2 separate regions of the Homo sapiens genome follow, and region 2 is linked to region 1. Evidence: fine-mapped expression QTL. A gene starts in region 1. The other region holds a variant in brackets. All regions are shown on one strand. Distances are from middle to middle.

Region 1 (4,392 bases):
GCTATGCTAGAGTATAATCAAATCTCTCAGTGCCGAGAAAAGAACTTTTATATGAGGAAGGTAAATCCTTTTAAATTACCAGGCCCAGAGAGACATTAAAATGAGACAGCAATTACATCCTACTCCCCACTTTGTTATGCATTCATCTCTTTAAACTGCTTACTATAGCCACAAGTAGCTAAAAATTAACCTAATAATGGTACACTGGACACTGTAACTCGCACCCTATAGCTTAACGTATAGCCAACCACTAACCAATACTATTTCTACAAACCAGTAATTCTTTACAACTTTGTATCAGTCAACTCCCTGTCCCCTTTTTGCCTTTAAAAACCTGATTGTAACAAAGGTGGACAGGAGTTCACATTTAAGGTTACTTGGGTCTGGGTCTTCTGGGCAGCTGTCCTCACTTTGGCTAAAGTAAATGCTTTAAGTTCTATCTCGTGCCTCAGCGTCTAGGTTGACAGTGTAGTTTGAACAGTCAATACCTGTCGAGAGTTCTGCAGTTTTCAGAACAATGGTTGTTAAAATTCGATTAATCTGGCTTTTAAGATGGTCAAAGTTTTGTAACGTCGGTGTATTGGAACCACACCACAGAAACAGCGGATCATGTAAGTAAAAGTCAAATAGTTGCCACATCAATAAGCTAATATAAATGAAGTAAGCCTGATTACAAGCTGCTTTGGACAGTCTGGGTTTCCAACTTTGTTTGTCGGTTTGTTTAATTTTTGCCTCTCAAGTTTATTATCCAGTATTATGTGTGTTGCCCTCTGTTCCTCCTCCAGCATGTGTGCCTATTTTCACAGCTTTTCTCCTCCACGAGTTTCCAAGGGCCACAACTGGTCCTAGCAAAGCCTTGTGAATGAAATCCAGCAATTGGAGCAGACAACTTGGTTAAGAAAACAAAAACAAAAAACCAAGAAACCCTTCAAGATACGAGGGCTGAGTCTCTGGACTATCTCCTCTTGCTGTAACCGCCCAAGGGGTTCACCTTTCCCGCTTCCTAGACAGAGCTGATTCATCAAGACAGGGGAATTGCAATAGAGAAAGAGTAATTCATGCAGAGCCAGCTGTGTGAGACCGGAGTTCTATTATTACTCAAATCAGTCTCCCTGAGCATTCAGGGAGCAGAGGTTTTTTCTTTTTTTTTTTGATACGTAGTTTCACTCTTGTCGCCCAGGGTGGAGTGCAGTGGTGCGACGTTGGCTCACTGCAACCTCCACCTCCCGGGTTCAAGCGATTCTCCTGCTTCATCCTCCTGAGCAGCTGGGACTACAGGCGCGTTTACCACCATGCCCAGCTAATTTTTGTATTTTTAGTAGAGACGAGGTTTCACCACGTTGGCCAGGCTGGTCTTGAACTCCTGACTGCAAGTGATCCCGCCTCGGCCTCCCAAATCAGTCATAATTTTGCAAAGGCGGTTTCATTCCCATAACGAAGTATTATTCAAAAATATGGCTAAGACCTGCGTCCTTCCGCAACAACTTACTCCCTAAAAAAACCAGAGCAGGGCCAGGCGCGTTGGCTGAGGCCTGTAACCTCAGCACTGTGGGAGGCCCAAACAGTTGGATTATTTGAGCTTGAGAGTTGGAGACCAGCCTGGGCAACATGGCAAAAATCTGTCGCTACAAAACATACAAAAATTAGCCAGGTATGGCGGTGTGTGCCTGTAGTCCCAGCTACGTCGGGGGCTGAGACAAGAGACTCGCTTAAGCCCAGGAGGTTGAGGCGGCAATGAGCTGAAATCGCGCCCCTGCACTGCAGCCTGGGCGACAGAGCCAGACTCTTGTCTCAAAAAACAAAAACCAAAAACCCAGGGCAGCAAGTCTCTCTCAAACCCCTTGGCTTCTTTCCCACTTATTCCCGTTCCAGTTCCTCGTCTGTTTCACCTTTCCTTTCCTCTGACACTTTCTTGGTAGTTCCCTGCGTCCCCAAGTAAGCCTGCGCAGACTGGGAAGTCTGGGAAGTCGGAGAAGGAAGGCGCTACCAAGCCGGCAACGCACGACCTTTGCTTTGCGGCGCGGCCGTAAAGCGCCATTACGCAGAGAGAAAGTTACGAGGTTCGTGGCCGCGGTTTCCCCAGGCAGCTGGCGCTGGAGGCTTCGGCGTCACGTGCTGGTCTGGATTTTTCTCGATGCACTGGGGAAAGCGGTGGACTCTTATCGTGGGAGGGCTCTTGATCTGTGATTTATAGATAGGCACAGCTACTCCCGTTCGGGAACCCAACGGCAGACAGGTCCTAGTGCCCATCAGATACCCGCGGCCGGGACTCGGAGCTGTGGGGTGTGGGGAGGCGGAGGCACCAACTAAGAGCGACCTAGCATCGCAAAGCCGCCCTCGGGGCGCTCATGGCGGGACGCCTCCTGGGAAAGGCTTTAGCCGCGGTGTCTCTCTCTCTGGCCTTGGCCTCTGTGACTATCAGGTCCTCGCGCTGCCGCGGCATCCAGGCGTTCAGGTATTCCACCCTCCTACTACCGGCTCCTTTGCCCTAGACCTTGAGTTGGGGGTGGGAAGCAGCTTTTTTTTCTGGCGTATTCTGTAGGCTTTGCTTTGCCTCTCGGGTTTTTATAGTCATATACAAGTTTTCAAAAAGGCTCTAAAATATTTTATCTGCCTTTTGAGGAAAACGAGTGGCAGGGACCCTTCTTGACTTCTGATTTTGAAATTTGCCATTCTCTGTAAATCATTGTTAGTATCACGAGAGAGTTTAAATAGCAATTGTTTGGGGTGGTGGTGTCCCGTGCCATTTTTTTATGGTTAATACTTAAAACATTATTATTAGTATTAATACATGTACATAGTTAAAACAACTTGAAAATGTAAAATGAAAAGTAAAATCACTATTCCCCCTGTCCCCTTTCCAGGGTGGACAATATATTATATTTACTATCTACCTCCTTTTTTTTAATAATTTGTCTATTGTGGTTAAATTTAGGGATTTATGGTGTCTTACACTGCCTCCTTCTGTTCTTCCCTTCTCCAGTTTTTATTCTTTGAGTTAGTAAACACAGGGTCCTAGGTGCAGCAGCCTTTTCTTATTTTATAGATATTAAAAGTCTTGAATCTACAAAGATGATAATTAGAAAAATCTATTTCCTAAATAATTTACTTACTGTTGGTCAATTGTTCTGTGTCTTTTTGGTCCTGTTTCCTTCTGTTGCTTTTTCTCGAACATGTGATGGGCACTGGTTATCTGTCTATATTTTGATTAATATGAGTAATAGGTCTTGTTTTCAGTACATGGGTCGCTAATTGACTTTTGGCTCTGTACCAGGTTGCCTAGATAGGAAGGTTTCAGTTGAGGGCATGTGAGCAGGTACCAGATGGGTAGACTGGGAACCTGCCTTTTGCTTCAGGCTTTGCAGTAGTGGTGGAGCAACTTCTCTGCTGAGTATAGCTGTTTATTTCCTCCGTGTGAACTGTAAAATTATTAAGCCTAAGTTTCTGCTGTGTACTCTTAACACCAGTATTCACAGTAGGGGTCCTACCCCTTCATTTCTAAAAAACTTTTGATTTTATCTTGGAGACAAACATAACTATTTTGGACTTTTTGCTTGGAGATTGGGGAGGGAGGAGGACTGAGTGATTTCCATGGTTATTGTCGCGCTGCCAGTTTATGATCCTTGGGCCCACTGACTTCAAGCTTGAAACCTCTAGCTCGGCTCAGCTTGTAGGAATAGCATTTCTCCCTAATGCGTTTTTTTTTTTTTTTTTTTTTTTGAGAAGGAGTTTCGCTCTGTCGCCCAGGCTGGAGCGCAGTGGCGCGATCTCGGCTCACTGCAACTTCCGCCTCCTGGGTTCAAGCGATTCTTCTGCCTCAGCCTCTTGAGTAGCTGAGATTACTGGCGCGCGCACGCCCGGCTAATTTTTTTTGTATTTTTAGTAGAGACAGGGTTTCACCATCTTGGTTAGGCTGATCTGGTCTTGAACTCTTGACCTCGTGATCCGCCCGTCTCGGCCTCCCAAAGTGCTGGGATTACAGGCGTGAGCCACCGCGCCCGGCCTTGGTGCATATTCTTATTTTACTTTGTCCTACTCTGGTTTGTAGGTCAATATTCCAACAACTTTTCATTTTCCTGAAGTTGGTTACCATCTGTCATTCACTGGTGGCATTTATTCCTTCTCCTGGTACGGATTTTATTTCCCTTTATCTATCTTTATCTTCTTTTAGTGGGATTTGAGGAAGGAAGGAATACACGTGTGTGCTCTCTGGAAATCTCTAATGCTCTTTTTGTTAGATGCCAGCAGAACAGTGTAAAGTTGCTTGACAGTTATTCTTCGTTTTTGTAACTCTGGGAACCCTACATGAGGCAGGTATATCCAGAACCAGAGACTGTACTGACTTGAAAGAAAAAGCCAACAGTTAACAAATGTGCCAAGTACCTGGTAACT
Region 2 (4,392 bases), 45 kb after region 1:
GCTTTTTCTACTGGTTGGTCCCTGGGTTTATTCTACACAAATAAGGAAAGTTTCAGGTCTTAGGTAATTCAGTTTTCAAGGATATGTGAAATTTGAACATTCAATTACTCAAATCAAACAAAATATCAATAACTAGTGGTCCCCCAAAGAGAATGTTAGCCAGTAATTATTGGTATCAAATTCTCCCCAATTAAATCTAAAGAATTTTCAAGTTTTTGTTTTGTATTAGTTTAAGTATTTCCTAAGGAAGCTTTAAGTATAACCACCTGATTTGGATTGTAAGGAAAAGGAAAAGGAATAGAAATCTACAAAAAAAAAAAAAAAAAAAAAAAAAAAAAGTAAATTGTGAATGAAACTGTGAACACTCTCTCTTGCTTTTTCTCATTTATTCATACATTCACTCATCCTTCCACCCATCTATCCATCCATCCCTACAATATTTACTGAGCAATTATTCTATATCTAGGGTTTAGGGATAGCAGTAAATGACACTTAGAGAGCTCACCTTCTATTTGGTGGAGATTAGAATCTAGTGGGTTCAATATAATATTTTCTTTCAAGAGGTATGGTTGTTCTTCTTAATTTATCTAACTTAAAGCCCAGGAATCTGTCTTAATGTGTTGATAGTTTTTACAAATCTACCACTTTCCCTACAGTAAGTGTTACTTTCTTTGCTTGCTTTGAAGATACTAGTCTGCCATCTGGTGGTAGGAAGAGTTTCCATTTCACAGAAGAGTGATTCTTTTAATTGTCATATAGATTTAAATAAATTTAAATTTAAATGTTAACAGCGATTCCTAAGTTCTAATTATAAACCAAGACTCCAAGATTTTGCATCAGTTTAAAATAAATCTTGCCAGGGCACGGTCGCTCATGCCTGTAATCCTAGCACTTTGGGAGGCCGAGGCAGGCAGATCACTTGAGGTCAGGAGTGAGTTCGCCCAGCCCAACTAACATGGTGAAACCCATCTCTACTAAAAACACAAAAATTAGCCAGGCATGGTGGCTACACGGGAGGCTGAGGCAGGAGAATTGCTTGAACCTGGGAGGCGGAGGTTGCAGTGAGCTGAGATTGCACCACTGTACTCCAGCCTGGGCAACAGAGAGAGACTCTGTCTCAAAAAACAAAAACGAAAACAAAAAAAACAAATTTTAGCAAACAATAGGGAAACAATGCACCTAGTCCTGACTAGAACCAAAATAATTAGCAATTAATTATAAGTGCAAGAATAATATTTAGAATTTAACAGCTGGGATTCAATCAGAACAAGTAAAAACATTAAAGGAGAAGAAATGTTCTATTGAGGACTAAGTTTAGTGACAAATTTTTAAAAGTTGAGAGAAACACAGTTTGAAATTAAATGCAAGCAAAGGGAAGGTGTTTATTAAATTTAGATATAAAAACAGTTACACAAAATCATGTTTGTATATTTAAAAATATTTAGGAGATCAGACAATATTAAGCAAGATGTAGTTTTAAAATGTTTGTGAGCTGGGCATGGTGGTGTGCACCTATAATCCAGCTACTGGGGAGCCTGTGGGAGGTGGGAGGATCACTTGAGCCCAGGAGTTTGAGACTAGCCTGGGTGACATAGTGAGGTCCTTGTCTGTAAATAAGGGGTATGTGAAGTTTTAAAATGTATGTGATTTTTAAAGAAAAAAATCATTGCTTAAATACTTATCCAAATTTAACAAGGCCCCAATCTGTGTTGCAGCATCATTATTTTAGACTAAAATAATTTTCTACCCGCAAATTGCCTTGTGCTTTTCAAGTCTGCACCCATGCACTTGCTGTTCCTCTGCCTGAAATGTTTCATCCATTTGTCTTCCTTCAAGACCTGGTTCAGATACTGTCTTCTCTGAAGTCTTTGATCCATAGCTTTGTATTTGTGTCTCGAAATACTTATCAAATTACATTGTAGTTTCCCTTTATGAGTCTCTCTTCCTCATCAGATCTGAACTTATACTGTTTGTACCTCAAGCACTCACCGTTGACTCTATAATGTAGTCGACTTACAAAAGTGTTATATATAGAATAAAGGCAACTCTATTGTGTATTTAGCATTGTTCCAAACTTTATTGAAAAAATGTTTTAAGAATCCAGATATTAGGAGAGCCTGGAGAGAGTCCAAACAGAAAAGCAAAATAACTATTTTGCTTGAACTTGGGAAAAAGTTATAGAAAGCTGGGGAAAAAAAATCTTCTTAGAGAAAGAAAGCAACAAGGTGAATTTGAAAAAGCAAAAGAATGGATATTATAGAAAGAAGTATTCTCTTCATAAAGAGTAAGCTCGTAACGGTCAAAGTAATTCAGCACAAACACCTTTTTAATAGTAAGTGCAGAGAAACACTGCGAGAGGGCACTGAAGATTTGGAGGGAAATTTGCTAGCCCCTTGTCACGTTCCACTATAAGCTAT[A/G]TGGGAGAGAAGTTTGAATAGCTGATTCCTGGGGACTGCCTAAAGCCTCATATTTCAGTATCAAAATTTGGAAAGTTTCATAACCACCATCCAACAAATAAATCCTTTTAGCTATTTCAGATTCCCCAAACCCATGCTTACCAGGGGCGGTTGCGGAGGTAGGGGAAAGAGGACCTGAGGGAAAAATGGTGGTACTTGTGGTGGGTAAAAGATAAATCTCTGTAAAAAGAAACATGATGTCAGTCATTTCAGACAATGGCAGACTTTTAAAATGATGAATGCATTATTTAAAAATACAATTAGAAGTTCACCTGTTCACTGGAACTTTCAGCATATTGTTCGAGCTTGCAAAACAATAACAGCAACAAGGTAAAGCAGCATATGGAAATACATTATCCACTAAAGAGAGGTTTTGTTCTAAAGGAGAATAAGTAATAAGCCACTATGGAGCATTATACCCATCAGTAATGTAACTTCACTTCTGAAATAAAAAGCAGTTGGATATCTAATAGGGAAAAGTTTAATTAATTTTGTGCAATGATTTGGAAGACCAAGGCTTTTTGCTTTTAAATTTATATCCAAAGAATGCTTTTATTTACATTTCTTAAGATTAATTCCATATTACATGAATATTTCCTTTTGTAAATCTTTGAATGGTGTTCTTGATTTAGTTCTCAGTAGTTATAAACTCAAAGTGAAGGGAGTGTGGAAATGTACACTTAAGTTCTGCACCCCAAACACAAATTTTGAAAGCTCCCTCACTTCTTCAAAAGCTCCTTTGATACAAAGTGTGCAGGGGAGAGAGTTTCTTGCCTACTTGGTGCCCTCATATTCAGACTAGTAAACCCAGATTAGACTCAGTGGATCTCATTTGTATATAGTCAGTTGATGACAAAATGTCTATATAGGTGAAGTTAATGATGTTCTGGGATTACAGTATTTCATATATTCTTAGATGCTATCATTGTCAAAAGCACCATTATTTCATAAATTACCAAAAAAGAAAAGCGCTGCTGTTAAGCTGCCGTGACACTTTATCAAATTGTGTTTTTAAGACACAGCTCAATTTCAGAGCTGCTGAAATATCAAAAAGTACATATTAGAATTAATGAAATATGTATACTGCAGCATTCCCATCAGCCTAAAGAAACAGGCAATACAAATTGTTTGGAATTTTAGACCACGATACTTGCCAGCTTTGGCAAAAAGGATTGTGGTCTAAAGAAACAAATTAGGTTTGTTATCAAGGGCACTATAGATGAATGTAGCTTTTTATCCAAATCTGGTTTTCAAAAATTGGACTTTAAAGGTGTGTCTGTATGATCACTCAAATATAATTCAGGCATAAGTTGTTTTTATATTCATAATTTAGTAATCAATGTAAGTTATCTTAAATATTTCCTTCTTTAAAATCAAATCTACAATGAGGTAGATAGTCCTTTGGTGTCAGAGCATTTCCATGTAACAGCCTTTTAAGAAAACATGAGATGGTTTGGGGCAAGGGCATTACAAATGAAACTCAATTCAAACTGCTTAATTTAGACCTGGGTCACTGCAGAATATTTGTTCTATATCACTGAGTTTATTGAGAACATCCTATCTTTCAAATAGGACCCTTCTCTGCCTTAGATGCATTAAAAAAATCATCTCCGTGCAACTCTGAGGTGTTCCTAGGACTCATTTTATAGACAAGGAAACCATGGGTTAGTTCAAAGTCACACAGCTAGCACATGGCATATGGAGCTGAGATTTGTACTGGGCAGAGTCTTGGACTGACAAAGAGTGGTGAACTCCTAGTTCTATGACTTTCCTGGGTTCCGCTTTCCTCTTTTGTGAAATGAAAAGATAAGACCTGCTTTCTAGCCGAGAAATGCGATGACTCTAAATCTGAAATTGAGTCAGCAGCTGAGGAGGGTGTACTCACGGGGATGGGCAGAGCAGTGGCAGTGCTCAAAAGGCCAGCCAAGATGAGAAA

Evidence for each region. PIP is the estimated chance that this variant, and not a neighbour inherited with it, causes the effect. A credible set is the group of variants that fine-mapping cannot tell apart.
Region 2: its variant is the best candidate, but not a certain one, in a credible set for the expression of NUDT9 in monocytes (TOPMed, PIP 0.83).

Annotation. Positions count from the first base shown.
Region 1 is chr4:87,420,558-87,424,949 of GRCh38, forward strand. It overlaps NUDT9 (nudix hydrolase 9), which reads left to right and starts at 2,016. Exons shown (of 8, transcript NM_024047.5): 1 at 2,016-2,455. The coding sequence starts at 2,349. RefSeq lists enhancers at 1,785-1,834, 1,904-2,838, 3,382-3,885, 3,886-4,387.
Region 2 is chr4:87,465,251-87,469,642 of GRCh38, forward strand. SCPPPQ1 (secretory calcium-binding phosphoprotein proline-glutamine rich 1) reads right to left here. Exons shown (of 10, transcript NM_001405228.1): 3 at 4,342-4,392; 4 at 2,729-2,761; 5 at 2,559-2,636. Among named protein-coding and RNA genes, the nearest start is that of SCPPPQ1, 3.6 kb to the right of the region's middle. The variant A/G (reference allele first, on the strand shown) is at 2,418.